Linked DNA regions of Homo sapiens: region 1 is linked to region 2. The links come from fine-mapping of genetic effects on gene expression. A gene starts in region 2. The other region holds a variant in brackets. All regions are shown on one strand. Distances are between the middles of the regions. Region 1 overlaps MTMR1 (myotubularin related protein 1). Region 2 holds the start of HMGB3 (high mobility group box 3).

Region 1 (8,323 bases), 210 kb after region 2:
CCTCCATAGGCTTCCCAGAGGCCTTTCACTTCCCGAGGGCGCCAGGTGCTCTTCCATCCCCATCCCGGGCCTCTGCTGTCCCCCGTCCTGACCTAGCTCCTCTCGCCCTGCAGGCCTGGAGCAGCCTCTCCCAGCCTGTGGTCCTACAGCGCCCCCTGCTGACCTCACCTGGTGCTCATGGGGCGGGATTGGGCCGGTTGGTTTCTGAGTGTGCGACTCCCAGCTCGCCTTGCCCCCTCCGTGATCAGGAGTCTCTGGACCGTCCATTCCGTGGCGGGGCTGCGTGTACATCATGTCCCTGGCACCTGGCCCGGGCCAGAATCAGGAGGAGTCCCGCAGACGTTTGTGGGGTGGCTGAAAACACTGAGAAGCTGGGGGTTGGGCCTCCTGTCCCCACTCTTTCCCCTGAGTCTCAGCCACTGCCACATGGAGATGGCGGTAGAGGGGACCGGGGTGCAGAACACCAAGCTCTGGGGAGACAGCAGGAGGTGGCTGCGAGGAAGGCCTGCCCCCACCACTGTGGCCCTCAGGTGCTCTCGGCCTCTGCTGCTGCCAAAAGGCCCATGCTGGGGACCCTTGGCTTCCCTTGCCTTTGCCCTCAGTGTGGAAAGCCCGCATGTTTGCTGTCAGGAGCGCTCTTACTCCAGGGATTCTAAGCTTTGTGTCTTGCCTTCAGATGCAGCAGCAGGTCAAGGTAACGCTGCTTTGCCTTCCTCACTTTCCTTTTGCTTCAGCCTTGATGCTTCCTCATTCGCCCCCTGCTCTGGCGCTTCCTTGCCGCTCTTCTCCCTCCTGCTTCCCTGGCACTCACCGACGTGGCTGTAACCAGGACCATCTTTAGCTTACCCTGATGCGTGTGAGAGGATGCCACCTGCCAGACACTCTGTCCCCAGGCTGGATGTGGCAGGGGTGGGGGGAGAGTTGAGGTGCCATGGTGAGGACTCAGGTGCCCACTGGTGGTCATGCCTGGGGAGCACATAGAGGGCCACCCACAGGAAGGAGACGATCCAGCGCCCACTGGGTTGGCAGCTAGCAGTGATCACGAGGCTCAGGGTGTGTCTCCTGGCCCCCACCTGTCAGCTGGGAAGGTGCACCTGGGGCAGCTTCCACTGCACTCATCACCTGCCCCGCTCTGCGTGGGGCCGGCCACACCTGCCAAAGAGCAACGCCCGCATTTGCCACAGGCCCATTTGGCTCCCACCTCAAGCCCAGCAGCCACCGGGGCAGGCAGGTGGTGGGCATTCTTGTTTAGGCAAGGAGCCTGTAGCCCAGGACGATGGCTTGACTTGCACTGGTGCCTGGTCGGTCGGTCGGTCGGTTGGAACCATGCCCCAGTTTTCCCACAGACCCGGGGCTGAAGGGTTCCAGTCCCTGTGCTACGCAGGGATGAGACACAGACTCTTGACTCTCTGCAAGCAGCAGCAGGGGTGGGGTCCACTCTAAGAACTTGAACACTGGCCCTTGCTGGCGGGAGGGAATGCTTGGTACAGTCCCCGAATCCCTCTTGTAACAGGTGTAGAGAAAGCCTAGATAACTAACTAGACTGAAGCAGCTGCTGGTGGGCTGGCCCCTCCAAGCTCAGGTGGACACAGCGGTTATTCCTGCTGCTGGGAGGAGCAGTTGGCCTCCGCGCGGGTGTTGCTGGGAGGCTGCATGTTGGCAGGAGGCTTTGCTGCATCTACATGCTGAGCCCCACTCAGCCATCCGCCCCTCCCTGCCCTGCATCCATCAATCACTCATAGCGATTGGCTCCCTGGCCCCCGGGCCGCACACGCACACGGACCTGTGGATGGTGCTGAGCCCTGCCATCGGGCGCCCCCTCCACTGGGCGGAGCTGCCGTCTTGACGCGGTGGCAGCTGCCCTATGAGGATGGAGTGCCGGAAGCCTTCGCTGCATGTCGTTGTTATTTCTGAGGACGATGATGAGAACTCCTGGGCAGTGAATTCTGGGACGAACAGTCTTCATCCGGATAAGGATGTTCAGGTGGCTCAGGGTGCAGGGTTTTGAGTTCCCCAGGGGAGCTGTGCTGCTTTTTTAGCTGCAGAGGACTTGGTCAGGAGTTCTCAGTCACGATTGGGGACCCTTAGGTCCTGTGCGCATCACTAACTCTGCCCTTTTCCCTTTGCAGAGGGTCTCAACGCAGACTACGTGAAGGGAGAGAACCTGGAAGCCGTGGTATGTGAGGAACCCCAAGGTGAGAACTTTGTACTCACTGTCCCTTGCTGACGCTTTCCTAGTTGGTCCCAGCACTGAGCAGAACTGTGCTAGAGAAGCAGGGAAGCACAGAGGCGTCTGCTTCTAGAATGTCCGGCCAGAGCAAAAGCCTGCCCTGATGAGCCTGCCTCCCAGTTTCAGGAGCCCAAAGATGCTGGGGTGACAGCCAGGGCCATCTGCTGCCATGCCTGTGACTTCTGGGCATTGCGGCTGCTCGGCCCCTGCCCTTGATTCGTCCGTCCGAGCCAGAGCCCCAGGCACCTCTGCTCCCCATCAGCGAATACAATTACATCCTGAACAGAGCCATGGGGAAGCTTTTCACCTAGACCTAGAACTTTTCCCTTTGCAAATTGCCACAGGCAAGAGGGAACTTGGGTAAAACCCAGACCCTATTGTCAACACCTGTGCCCCTCCCTCCCCCTTCTGTGGTCATCAAGCACTTTCTGGATTCAGGAGCTGTTGGCAATTTGAGGTCGCATAAGTTCAGGCCACAGGCCTAGAGTGCCCAACTGCTCGAGGCAGATATGACCTGTGCCCACGGGATGCCAATGAGGAGGTCCGGAAAGGCTTGCTGGGGTCGGGGAGCAGCCGAGGCCTGGTGGCGCAGGCAGGGAGACTAGGACAGCTCAGGCGAGTGTTGCCAGTGGAACTACAGTGCAGCAGCCGTGGGGACTGGGCCTGGGAGACCAGGAGGGGCTCAGCCTGTGTGGTGTGTACTGGGAGCCAGGTGCCCTACAATGCTGCTGAAGACGGGTGGCAGTGCTGCACCAAATGAACTAAAATAGGCCTGGGTTCAGATGTGGAAAAATGGATTCCGCTGTCGCATCCACTGTCATGAGCTTTGCCACGGTTAGCCACCACGAGGCCAGCATCTGTGTGGGCAGGTGCTAGGTTGAGCCCTTTGTTTAAAATAACCCTTCCAGCAGCGCTGGCAGGAACACGCTCATTTTTTAGGTGAGGAGATGGAGGCTGAGCTGTTTCCAGAGCCTGTCCAGCTTTCTCTTTCTCTCCCCTTGACCGGCCCAAAACTGCTCCCAGGCTCAGGAGGGAAGGTTGCTAAGCGGCCCCCCAGGGGATACAAAGGGAAACCCAGTTCTGTTCCCAGCACGGGCTTGCTGCTGTATTTGCTTCTTCTGTGCAAGACAGAGCAGAATTCCTTCTGACGGCCTCTTTTTCCCCTAGTGAAATACTCCACGTTGCACACGCAGTCTGCAGAGCCGCCGCCGCCGCCCGAACCAGCCCGGATCTGAGGGCCCTGTCCAGCTGCAGGCATGCACAATGGTGCCACCGCTTGTCACCCGGCTCCCCCCACCCCTTCATTTGGACCCGCAGCTGCTGTGCTGCTCTGTGCCATCGGCTCCTTGTTGGTCTGAGTTTCCCGGATGAGCTCTGGGTGTTTGTGAGTTTGGTTTCTCTGCCCTGCCCCAAGCGTGCTGAGACTTGGTGCCGAAATTCAAGAGCCAGCTCTGATAGAAAGCCAGCACCAGCCTCGGGAGCTGCTGAGCCACCAACTCCCAAAGCCAGCCTGCCTCCAGCTTTACTGAGCACAGGATGCGGGGGCCAAGATGATGCTGAGGCCTGATGACATTTATGCTTAGGGGACAAGAGTTTGAACTCAAGGGACTGTGACCCCTGCACACTGGAGTGGCTCATTGTGGCAGGTTTCTGCCAATAGACAGCCCCTGACAGTGGCCTCAAGGAGCTGCAGGTGGGGGGCTCAGCCTGCACCCACTTGGAGCCCCTGCAAGGAGCGAACCGGTCAGCACCAAGTAACACCACACACACGCAGCACCCAGGATGATGGTTTCACTTCAGTCTTCCCCATCCCAGGTTTTATGTTGCTGGGCTTCCGGAGAGCCGGTCCAAGCGGAGGCTTTCAGTGATTTAAGTACAAACATGCATCTCGTGATAGTCCTGCCTTGAGAGCTTAGGAATCTTCCGGATAAGTATGAAGCAATTCGTAGGCCTGTTTCCCATCTGATTCCATAGGGGGCTGGGTGTGGCCTTCGGGTTGACATGAGAAAGGTCTTTAGCAATCATTTC[T/C]GCACCGGAGATGAGTTTTATCCTGTGTTGGGGAGAGGTGCTCACCCTCCACCCTGTGTCCCTGTTTTGGTAGCAAGAGTGACCGATGTCAAGAACGAGCATCAAAGCCAGAATCCTGCTTGTTTGCTTAAAAATGTAATTGGGGGCGGCGGGGGAGGAGAGGGGAAAGAGACATTCGCTTGGTTTAGTGAAACGCAGGTGACTTTGTAGCTCTGTGGTCAGCCTACTTGTCTGCTCTGAGGGAGAGTGCGTGGGGAGCCATGCTCACCGTGGCAAACACAGGAACCCCATGACTCGCCCCTCACCTGGCGTGGAGCTGCCTGGTTTGGGCTGGAGCAGAGCTGGTTTCCTGGAATGTTCCTTTGGCCCACATATGGTTCTGTCCCGGTGAGCTCTGTTGTCAGAGGCTCACGGGACAGAACCACATGCTAGGGTCTAGGGCCCCTGTCTACTGATAGTCAGTTTGCTGTGTCAGAAAGCACTTCTGAAAGCAGATATGAGTCACCAGACAGGCAGGATCTTACAAAACTCACGGGCCTCTTTGGTCTGCATGATGGCCCCATGCGTTTCATAGGCTGTCCACTGAGCGGGATTGTCTGCTGAGTGGGATGAGCCAACTCCAGTTTCTTAAGGAAACCACTGGAATCTGCAGCCCCCACATGCATCTGTCTAACGCATGCCTCGTGTTCGTTTTGCAAACATGCCTGTGGTGGAGGGTGGTCAGTTGTAGCCCTGTGCGTCTCAAGGCTGCCTTGTGAGGCCATTCCCAGTGCGTGCCCTTGAGCTCCTTACCACCCCTTTTCCTGCTCGGCCCTTTAATCCCTGACAGACCTGGACTGTGTGGCTGAAGGGGGACCTGCAGCACTGCAGAAATGCCTCTGCGTGGTGCCATGAAGGAAAGAAACCTTGGCCTGGTCTCGAGAAGCTTCCCATGCTTCAGGAAGTTAGTAAGGGTGGGGTGGCTTGCAGGATTGGCCTGTTTCCAGGGCCTCCCACACTCATTGGCCAGATTGTGAACTTTGTCAGGCTTGTCCCTCCCTGATACCAAGTATGTCGAGAACCGATGGCCCCACCCTCTGGCTGGTGCTGGGCCGGAGGTGGCTATGGAGGATTTTGGCATGCGTGGCCTGTCGCCACCTGGACAGCGTGACCTCAGGGGTTGTCCACTTTACCTTTATGGTGAGGCCTGTCGGATGGCTAAGTCCTTGAAACCCTAGAGCTGTGACGTAGAATATGTGCTGTCTGTGAGACCGTGTTCCCAGGAGCACTGACTGCAGTTGAGAGAGACCCATTTTGCTCTCCCTTACCGCCCCCCGCCCCGGGTGCTTTCTGCACAAAGCCTAGAGCCTGGCACTCAAGCCCACCGGTGGCAGCTCCTAGTGACTGGACATGCCTGGAAGACCCCTCAGCCTTCTGTTTGCAGAACGTTCATTTCAGGAGCTTCTCCTTCCCACAGACATCTTACACTTGCTCGACACTGCCACCTGCAGAAGCCTGGCGGGCTCTGGTCACCATGTGTCTATCTGAAGGTTGCACTGGCCAGCATGGGCCTGTCCCAAGCGAGAGGGGAGACACAGTGGACTGAAAGGACTGGTTGAAAGTGGCCAATCTCTATCAGCTTAATTTGGCAGAGAAAATTTGTAACAACTCTGAGCACATGCTGGGTGAAGTCACAGCTCAAGGAAAGATAAAGCTGGGCGGAAGGAGGTGTGCGTGGCTTCTGGGGTGGGACCCAGAGGGGAGGCTCTGGGACAGGGGCTGGGGTTCAGTGCCAGGGCCCTGAGGAAGAAATGGGGACTGATCTCAAAATTCCAGAATTCCCTGTACATCTGTTCACGTGCTTGTGTCCAGGTGTGACTTGTAAACTGTCTAGTGTTTGCATTAAATAAAATGGCACCGAGCAGATTCTTGTCTTCTGATGGTGTTAAGGCACGCCCTTGGTCAAGTGTTGCCACTTTTCCCTAAAGTAAGTAATTTATGATGCAGAGCTGCCCTCCTCCCCCTCCCCCCGCCCCGCCCCCAGCTGAAGGTATTTCTCGAGAAGCTTAGAATTCTTGCATTTACCCCTCAGTGACTGGCTCAGTGTCAGGACTTCCAAGGGTGACTCCTCACCGTACAAGCAGCTAAGGCCAGGGGATGTGGAGCGACCAATGTCCTGGGGTTAGAGAGGGCAGAGGCAGGAGCAGAGTGCTGCGGGGCCGCTCCCGGGCTACATGGGTTGCGCAGTCCGGGGCCTGGAAGCAGCAAAAAGTCCCAGGCTCACAAATCCCAAGTCGACTGCTCTGCCGCCTTCCAAGCAGGCTGGTAACCAGTGGAGGTTCCAGTTAACGCGCAGTTGTTTTTCAACCAGAAAGCTGGGTGAGAAAGGAGCCCTGCACCTCGTCACTTGTTGCAGCCTCATGGAGAGTGGCCCGTTTGGGATGAAGTATGTCCTTCTCATCAGCTCGCATGTTGGCTTCAAATTGAGAAGACGACAGTTCAGTTCAGGGCATTTCAGCATGAAAACAAACAAGATGCAGTGGACCCTGGGTTTTAACATGGAGGTCGGTTGTTTGTTTTTTCATTTTGTTTTGCCAACCTCGGCTTCTAGTGAAATAATAGCATCAGGTCCTCTCAAACCCGAGACCACCATATGCCTGTCTCGTGCAGGAGTTCTGCATGGCTAGCTGCTATGGTCTCACTGCTGGGGAAGGCTGGCTGGCAAGCAGTCCCCTGGGCATCCTCTGTGCCCAGTGAATACCGGGCTCTCTGGCTCACTCAGTAGTAACGTGTGTGGAGAGGGACAGGGACCCCACACCCTTAACAAGAAGACCGACAACACACAGAGGGCACAGGGGGTGGTGTGATTTCATCCAGGCCTTCGTGGCCCTGAAAAGGTGAACGCCCCTTCCTTTGGGGTGGGGGCAGTCTGAGGCCTTAGAGAGCACTGCACTTGCATGCGAAGGACTCATCACCCTGACTGGCTCCTCTCAGGTGTCTCCAGACCTTTCCCCAAGTCGTCCACGTTTTCTCAAGGTTAGAGCTGAGGGCGTTTCTGACTTTACAATCATCAATCAATCAATCAATCAATCAATCAGTATTTCCTGTTTCAGCCAAAATACTTACTTACTTACTTACTTACTTACTTAAGACTCATGATACATTTACAATTTACTGAATGAATTAAATCACATAAAGTTAGTTACTTTACATCATCATATATTAACTGTGCTTGACGCACAGTAAACATTCAATCCATGTTATTTTATTACCGATTTTCCTCAAAGGAAAAATCTACTAAGATACTTACTTACTTACTTAAAAAAGACCAGGGAGCAAACATATGATCATTTTAATTACAGATGATTGAAATACAGTGCAACAGATGAGACAAATACAATACTGTACCAGTTTTTAAAAACCTGAACCATAACGGCTTCGCATTCTAGTACACTTACTTACTTAAAACAAAAATTGCTTAGATAACAAAACTATACTTCAAGTTGTTTTAGAAACAGTTCTGCGCTAGGAACATACAAAGGAAAATGACCCGTTGTGCTTCTTTAAAATCGAATGAGAGTCTCCTCTAGGGTCCTGCTGACAGAGCCCCCCCCAGCCTCCGCCAGGTGAGGTGCACAGGGCCCACTCCAGGCACCAGCTCCCCCCAACTTGGCTTCTCTGGTTTGTCGAAGGCATCATCCAGTCCACACTATGTTTAACAGTCCTAGTCAGCCAGGGGATTACATATTTCTGGGAAGAAAATGGCAAATGTCCCCATTAAAAAAAAAATCAGTATATCAATAATCCAGTATATCCATTCATAAATAAGCTTTCAGATATGTTAGGAACATAAAAGCTATTGTTGAACACGACTTAGCAACAAATCCCACATATGATAAAAAATGGAGAATTGATTTTAGGTTATCAAATTACCTTGAATAAATCTCTCTGGTATCTTCTTATAGAAGGATAATTTTCCGTAAGAATCAGGAGGTTCCCAGTTAAAAAAAAATCCATTCTTTCTCTCTCTACGAAAAAACCCTTAACATATTTTCAAAAATAATAAGGTCAATCTGTAGGCCTTTG
Region 2 (8,270 bases):
GCCGGGGTTTGTGGATTTGATCTTGGGGCGGAATTCTGAACAGAACAGGAAGAATCCAGACCTTGGAAGAATTACATACATTACATGAGAAACCACAAAAAATTTGAGTTAAAGTTGAAATCCCACATTCCTGAGAAGCATCTCCCTCCTACCACTATGACTTCTCCCTAAAGTGAAGTAATCTATGATACCATATACAATGCTACAAAGTTGTAGGTTCTAAAATATATAAGGTTAGAAAAATATGTGGTGCGCGGCTCACGCCTGTAATTCCAGCACTTTGGGAGGCCGAGGCAGGCGGATCACCTGAGGTTGGGAGTTTCAGACCAGCCTGACCAACATGGAGAAACCCCGTCTCTACTAAAAATATAAAAAAAATTAGCCGGGCATGGTGGTGCATGTCTGTAATCCCAGCTACTCAGGAGGCTGAGGCAGGAGAATCACTTGAACCCAGGAGGTGGAGGTTGCAGTGAGCCAAGATCACACCTTGCACTCCAGCCTGGTCAAGAGCGAAACTCCATCTCAAATATGTATGCGTGTGTGTGTGTATGCATATATAAAATATATGCGTATATATACGCGCATATATATATGGTGCTCTGTGTGTGTGTATGCATATATAATACATATGCGTATATATACGCGCATATATATATGGTGCTGTCCCAGTCTTTCAATTACTAGGAAAGGCATAAAGAACATACTTCAAGGACCCTGACAACCAAAACTAGAGTGCCTCCTTCACAATGGAAAGGCCAACAGACAACCACTGTGAATGTGCAAGCACAGCCCACAAACACTTCAGCCTTAACCACAGACAACGCTGGCACTGCATCGTAAAGCCCAAGTACAGAATGGTTTGCAGAGGTATTGCCATCTTTTAAGTATCTTTTAAAAAATATTTCATTTTGAAATGAAATACAGGACGACCAAAAAACCAAATCCTCCAAGCAGAAGAAAAGGTATTAATTGTTATCTTGAATCCTATAGTCACTTACGGTGGCCTTTTGGGAGCATTAGGATCCTTCTTCTTCTTGCCTCCCTTAGCTGGTCCATAATCCTTCATTTCCCGATCATAGCGCACTTTATCTGCCTTTGCCATTTCATCAAATTTAGATTTCTCTTTCCCGGACATCGTCTGCAAAGAACAGGACTCGTTAAATCCCTCGATGCAGTGAACACATACCTATTCAGTTTCTTGTGATTAAACTAGCAGTTGCTAGAACCACTTGCAAAAGGGGGTAGGTAAAGGCCTGAAACCTGTGCAGGGCCTTAAAAAAATAAAAGCACACACACAAAATTCTTAAGACAAGCAAAAATGATTCTAAGTAAAAGTAAAAGAGGAAGCAAGCAGCTATCTGGGAGAAAATCTGAAGGTAAGTAACCCCAAAGTAAGAAACCCAACTAAGACTAGTTTGAAGGGTACCAAAGAAAAATACCTTCCACCTCTCAGAGCACTTCTTGGAAAATTCCGCAAAATTGACAGGGACCTCTGGGTTTTTCTTCTTATGTTCTTCTCTGCATGTCTGCACAAAGAAGGCATAAGCGGACATCTTGCCCTTTGGTTTCTTGGGGTCACCTTTAGCCATCCTGACTGTGATAAAAGAGAAACAAAGAAATACAATGAGGAAAAGCAAGGAGGAATTGACAAGAAGTACAAGACGTACCAAAGGCAGAGCAAAACTAAAACTACACTTGCTGTTAGGAAGTCCCCTTCCCCCAATGCCGGACACCAGTGGCAGAAGGCAGAGTAGGAAAGAAATCAGCTTCATTGTCGCTTGTCATTTAACTTTTGACCAGCACGAAGCGCGCTGGTTTGCGAGTTACTTCTCAAAAGCGATCAAGTGCTCCAAATGGAGCCGACCCAAGTAGGGTACTCAGTGTTACGTTTACAGAACTGCTATGTTTTGGAAACTACAATCACAAAGTGGGAAGGGTAGAGAGAGGACACATTTGGTGGGGGTGATAGAAGCTTGAAATCTATGACTTAAGACTATCTGGTCATCTGCTAACTGTTAACACAATTAAAAACAACAACTCTTACCACTGCTGAACACAAGACCAAAGCAGGAGAACTATACGTAGGGGACATCTGAAATTGTCACTATTGTTGATGTGTTTTGGCTTACTAAAAAAACGGCTTTACAACACGGGAGATCTGGAAAGTGAGCAGGTACCCCCGTACTATTAGTTCAATTCATCACTTCGTCACTATCTAAAGGGGGAGGGTGTATAAAAAGGGCTAGTCGTGCTCATCTGTAACCCAGAATGCAGGTCCAGCCGAGAACACTTTCTCCAAAGTTTCCAAATAAAAATGCAGCTGCGGCATGTCATCGTCCCTGTCCCACCCCCCAGCTTCCCGCCATCTTTTCCTTTTCCCACACCCAAGGTCATCATGTAAAACTAAAGAGCTCCCCTTGGCAGCAGCCGCCCAGGAGGCTGCCCAACAGAGACCCGCAGCGGCGGCCCGGGCGGGGCGGGACCGGGAGCGGGGGAGTCCCGGCCGGCAGCAGGCAGCCCGCCTCGGCCCCCGTGCCGGGTCACCGGGACACCCGTAATTCACCTTCCATTTTGTCAAAAGCCTCCTGATGAAAGAAAGTGCCCCTGAAATCCGCCGCTGTCATCCCCGGGGGACGCGCGGGGCCGGGGGCGGCGGCGGTGGCGGTGCGCGGGGGGTGTGCGGCCGGGCCGGCGGCAGCCGCGGCACTGGTGGCGGCGTCCGCCGCGCCTCGGAGTCCCACTCGCTAAAATGGCTGATCCGCGCGCGGCCGGCGCGGGCGGCGGCGACAGCGGCGAACAAAGCGGCCCGGGCCCCGCCGCCGCCGCCCGCCCGTCGGCCCCCACCCCGCCCCGCCCCGCCCCGCCCGGGCCGCCCGGGGGCTCGGGGGCCCGGGCCGGACCTCCCCGCCCCCCGGCGCGGGGCGCACTCCTCGGGATAACAAAGGCGCCCGTGCAGCCATGACGCTCGGCCGCTCCAGGGCCCGCAGCGGCGCCCCCGGCCCTCCGAGCCGCCCGCCCCGGGCCGCGGGCGCCGGGGCCGAGGCCGGAGCCCGCCGGGCGCCCCGCCGACCGCTCCGCCCGCCTCCCCTGCCCTCGCCGGAGGCCAGCGCCGCGCCAGCCATGTTAGCGGCGGCGGCGGCGCCGGGCGGGCGGGAGGCGAGAGGGGGGCGGCCGGCCCGCGCCCCCCCGGGCCACCGGGCGCTCCGCGACGGCCATGTTAACGCAGAGCCAGCGGCGTAGCCTGCGGGCCCGCGCGGCGCCGGGCCAAGCCCGGGAGCGAAGTTTGCCCGTGCGGCGGCCCCCGGCGGGCACCAGCCGCGCAGCCCCCGGCGGGCACCGGCCGCCCGTTCCCCAGCGGAGTCCGTCGCGGGCCGGGGAACTCCCGGCCCCCTTCCCGCTGCCGCCGCCCAGCGCCCACAGCCCGCAGCCGCCCCTCTGCTCGCCCAGCCGCCGCAGCCGCAGCTGCCCAAACATCTGGCCTCGGGGGCCCTGGGTTCCCGGCTGCGGCCCCTGGGGCCGCCACGGGCGGGCGTCCGCCGAGGGGGCCGACCCCCGAAAGCGGGGAGCTCGGGGAACGCGTTGGAAAAGTTGAAACACCTGAATTGCTTCTTCCTTCCCGGCCGCCTAGCAGGAGGGAAGGCGGAGGGGGCGGGAAGGGAATGGGGAGTAGAGGCAGGGGGAGGCGGCGGCAGGGCGCGCTCACGGCGGCGCGGGCCGGAAAGTTGTGCGGGCGCTGCGGCGGCGGCGGCGGCGGCGGCGGCGGCGGCGGCGGCGGCGGCGGCGGCGGCGGGAGCGGGCGGTGCGAGACGTACCTGTATTGTTCGCTAGTCTGGGCAGCGCAGGGCACGACGCGCGGCTCAGCGCTCCCCAGCCTCGCGCTAGCTGCCTCCACGAGAGCCGCCTGATTGGCCAGCGGGCTCTGCCGTTTAAAACAGCCTCCTCGCCTGGCCATTGGCTGCGGGCCTCATGCATATTAAGCAGGCGTGGACGCCCATTGGGCGCGGCTGCTGGGATCATTCATTCAAACAGAACGACCCGCCGGCGCCGGCTACGGAGGCCAAACAGGGAAAGACCTAGTCTCGCCTGCCCGCCCCGCCCACCTCGCCAGCCCCCTCGGGGAACAGAACTGGGATCGCCAAGGGCTTTGAAGAGGTGGCCCTGCGATTCCCGGAGGCCTCGGCCTCTGGCGTGGGAAGATGAAGTCCAGCCCCGCTGCGCTGCCCTCTGCTCCCACCGCACCGCGGCCTTGGCGCCCCTGGCCTGCAGTCAGCTCCCCTGCCCGGGGAAACACCCCTGGGCCCACCACGAAGGGCCGATGGTAGACCACCTCTACCCGGTTCGGCCGCGGCGCCGCGACAGAAACGCGGCGGCAGCTCGCTCCTCGATGCCTGGCGGAGGGCAGCTGCTTGCTCGCCAAGACCTCGGGATTTAGTCCTCGGATCTCGCTGCCTATCCGAAAGCCACCTGATTCCGCTTCTGCGGATCGTGCTCAACTAGGCTCTTTCCACTAAATGCCAGAAGGTCTTTATTTGCGCCCGAAATTGCGGAACCGACGGGCTAAAAGAGGAAAACAAAATTTGGCAAGAGCAGAGAATTTGTGAGAAATTGTAGTTTTGTGGGCAAAGAATAACACTTTTCTTCTTACCCTCTTCACTGTCTCGGTTCAAGGCCCTCATTCCCTCTGCTCTCCTGACACACCCTAGAGCAAAGAATTAAAGCTTCGGGAATGAATGAGTGAATGAATGAATGAATGGGATTTGACTTGATCTCCACTTTGCCATTGGCTGGTGGTATGGCCTTGAGCTAGTCACTTCTTTGGGGATTCAGGCAATGTTTTTCAAAGTATAGGAGCCGCAGTGTCACTTCTGTAAGGGATGTTCTGAAATTCGTGGGGCCGGTGCCTGGATGACTGGCAGGTGTTGCTGGAATTCAATAAGAGGAAGGAACGGCCGGGGATACTAAATATCCTACATTGCATAGGACAGTCCCACGCAAGGAAGAAATACTCCACTTCAAATGCAAGTATCAGCCCTATTTGGAAAGAAAGTATCTGAGGGCCCTTGCCTGGAAAGAATGAAAGGGTGAGAAAAAGAGCAGTTTAAAGATTGACAGTTGGAGAAAATAATGCAAAGGAAGAGATGTCATGAGTTTGGTTTTTCTTTTCTTTGAAAGGCCAAGAGATCCAGCTATTTATGAGTCCTATATTCAGAAATAAGCCCCACCAGAACATGAATTTTCCAAATGCTGCTTCCAGAAACCGTGGCTGAGTTTGAGGTGTGCAAAGGATCTGGCTTCACAGGGCACCTGCTTCTTCACCCCTACGCCCCCTCTTACCAACTCCTCTGAGCCTCCCAGCCAAGCCTGAGCCCCTGAAGCTGGTGCTGTTGGCTCCCATCATCAAGGTTCCAATCCAGATCAAAAGGCAAAGATAGAGGCCAAGCGCGGTGGCTCATGCCTGTAATTCCAGTACTTTGGGAGGCTGAGGCAGGCGGATCACGAGATCAGGAGTTCAAGACCAGCCTGGCCAATCTGATGAAGCCCCGTCTCTACTAAAAATACAAAAAAATTAGCCAGGTGTGGTGATGCATGCCTGTAGGAGGCTGAGGCAGGAGAATCGCTTTAACCTGGGAGGTGGAGGTTGCAGTGAGCCAAGATCATGCTACTGCACTCCAGCCTGGGCAACAGAGCAAGACTCCGAAAAAAAAAAAAAAAAGGCAGAGATAGTGCTGCTTTTGACAAGAGCAGGCAGGTATTGTGTCACTAACCCAGGTCCCCACTACAGACTCAGGAGTTCAGAGATCTTAAGGCCACCTCATCCATCCCTCTGTCCTGTTAGAACCAGCTTAGTGGTTGCCTGCCTTCTGCTTGCATACCTCCACTCATAGGGAGCTTACCATCTTCCTTCATGGCAGTTCCTTCCATCTCCAGCCACCTCTGAGCCTTAAGGTCAACATCTCCACACAGGGTAATCCCTCACCCTTCAGATAGTTCATGGCAGGCCAGGCCTTTTCTCCAGACAGACAGCCCCTCCCTGCTCCTTCTACAAGCAGTTTCCCAGGGCCTGACCTGCCCAAGCCACTCCCTCTTCCCCTGTCTCCACAAGGCCTAGAGGGGAGCAGGGTTTCCACAAGTGATCTGACCAATACCTCGCCTCTGCCAGAGCACCCTAGCCTCTCAAGGTTGCCAGGCCTTTCTAGACCAGAGATTCAAGTTGGGGTCCAGCTACTGCCCAGCAACTGCCCACAGTGGCAAGTGACACGGCACAGTTGGCAGGCACCTTGGTGGGGGAACCAGGGTGGTGGGCCCTTGGATGGATGACAAGGGTCACACAAGCCCATGCCAACTCACAAGCAGCACATGTATACACGTACTCACGTATGGGCACACCCAGGGCATTCCCAGAGGCAGCAGCTTCAAGGGCAAACCAGAGAAATAAGAGCATCTCCCAACCCAAACTGGCCCCCAGTTGCCACCCTCAAGATCCATGCTTCCCTGCCCCACTGCCCCAACCCTGCCCATTGACCATCTATTTCTCCCCACATACTTCGAATGATGAAAGGATTGCGCTTACGCGCAGGAAGTATTTCCATCCTTTGCATAGGAAATATTTCGATCTCTGCTCTCAAGAAAGCTACCTCTTATATGGAGCTGAAGCACTTGGCCTGAAGCTGAACTACAAACTGGTCATCGTCAGAACATGAACTCACAGAACATGACTATGACATCACTGAGTGACAGAGATCCAAAGATGGCTCCCTGCTCCTCCCCATCCCCCCAGCCACCCACCTACCAATGGAGGCTCCTCACAGCCAGATTTTCTCCTTAACACCTGCCCGTGTGCGGCGACATGCCTGAGCAAGGCCTGTGGCCCAGTGGGCTCCTGCCTTAGCAGAAACTTTCATGTATATGTATTGCATGTCTACTAATCAGTAACAGAAGGGAGATGAGATGGAGTGGGGAGTAAGGCTGGAAGGAAGGGACAAGATAGAGGCTTTGGGCTCTGTCACTGATTTCCTGGTATGCCTTTTCACATGTCACCTGAGGGCTCCGAGCCTCAGTGTCCTCTATCAAAGGTGATTCCACCCGCCTCATCCACCCAGACCACTGCCAGTCTTGGTGGTGAGGGAGACTGAGTGAAGACGGTCTGCTTGTCACCAGTCAAAGGCCAACCAGGAGAGGCCTAAAGACTAGTTTGGAAGGTGAAAAAAAGAAAGAAAAGGTGACAGAAAGCCAGGGATGCCTGGGCACACCCTAGACTCAGGGAGCCCAAGGCAGGCTGCCTTCTCTGCAGCAAAGCTCAATGCCCGTTAGCTTGAGGATACCTCCAGCAGCAGCACCCAGGTCAGCGTGCAAGGGCTTGAGGGAATGAAGGATACTCTAGGCCTCTGCCCGGGCCCTACCTGGAAACAGGCAAAGCCCATCCACACAGGAGAACCTCAAACCAGAATCCCTTAAGCTGCTTGGCTGCCTAGAGAAGTTACGAAAACATTAAATAAGAAATGGGATGAAGTGTGGCAAATGCTATTTAAAGAGGTTTTCAGTTCCTGTCAGTTCAAGGCCCCTAAAAGACTAAGGGGAATCCTCATCGTTCAACAAAAATGAAACCCTGGTCCCCTGGCCCACTGCCTACACACTCCACCCACCCTCCCACAGTTCCCAAAGTCTTCATTTGAGTACCTTGGGCCAACCCAGCCTCCTTTTAAGAATCATGCCTGGCCGGGTGCGGTGGCTCACGCCTGTAATCCCAGCACTTTGGGAGGCCATGGTGGGCAGATCACCTGAGGTCAGGAGTTCAAGACCAGCCTGGCCAACAAGGTGAAATCCCATCTCTACTAAAAATACAAAAATTAGCCTGGTGTGGTGGCACCTGCCTGTAATCCCAGCTACTCAGGAGGCTCAGGGGGGAGAATCGCTTGAACCTGAGAGGCTGAGGTTGCAGTGAGCAGAGATGGCGCCACTGCACTCCAGCCTGGGTGACAGTGTGAGACTCCGTCTCAAAAAAAAGAAAAAGAAAAAAAAAAAGAATCATGCCTGTAGGCCAAATGTGGTGGCTCACGCCTGTAATCTCAGCACTTGGGGAGGCCAAGGTGGGTGGATCACCTGAGGTCAGGAGTTCGAGACCAGCCTGGCCAACATGGCGAAACCCCATCTCTACTAAAAATACAAAAATTAGCTGGGCGTGGTGATGGGCACCTGTAATCCCGGCTACTCAGGAGGCTGAGGCAGAGAATTGCTTGAACCCAGGATGCACAGGTTGCAGTGAGCCAAGA

The links. PIP is the estimated chance that this variant, and not a neighbour inherited with it, causes the effect.
Region 1: its variant is fine-mapped to the expression of HMGB3 in whole blood (TOPMed, PIP above 0.99). The same link has a PIP of 0.9 or more in blood mononuclear cells and monocytes.

Annotation. Positions count from the first base shown.
Region 1 is chrX:150,764,176-150,772,498 of GRCh38, reverse strand. It overlaps MTMR1 (myotubularin related protein 1), which reads right to left. Exons shown (of 16, transcript NM_001306144.3): 16 at 7,391-8,323. It overlaps CD99L2 (CD99 molecule like 2), which reads left to right. Exons shown (of 11, transcript NM_031462.4): 10 at 2,130-2,195; 11 at 3,398-6,163. The coding sequence ends at 3,465. Among named protein-coding and RNA genes, the nearest start is that of MTMR1, 75 kb to the right of the region's middle. RefSeq lists enhancers at 1-85, 86-633 and a silencer at 4,702-4,811. The variant T/C (reference allele first, on the strand shown) is at 4,259.
Region 2 is chrX:150,978,919-150,987,188 of GRCh38, reverse strand. HMGB3 (high mobility group box 3) reads right to left here and starts at 3,854. Exons shown (of 5, transcript NM_005342.4): 1 at 3,813-3,854; 2 at 1,440-1,594; 3 at 999-1,138; 4 at 1-61. The coding sequence starts at 1,589. RefSeq lists a silencer at 3,824-4,023 and an enhancer at 4,145-4,840.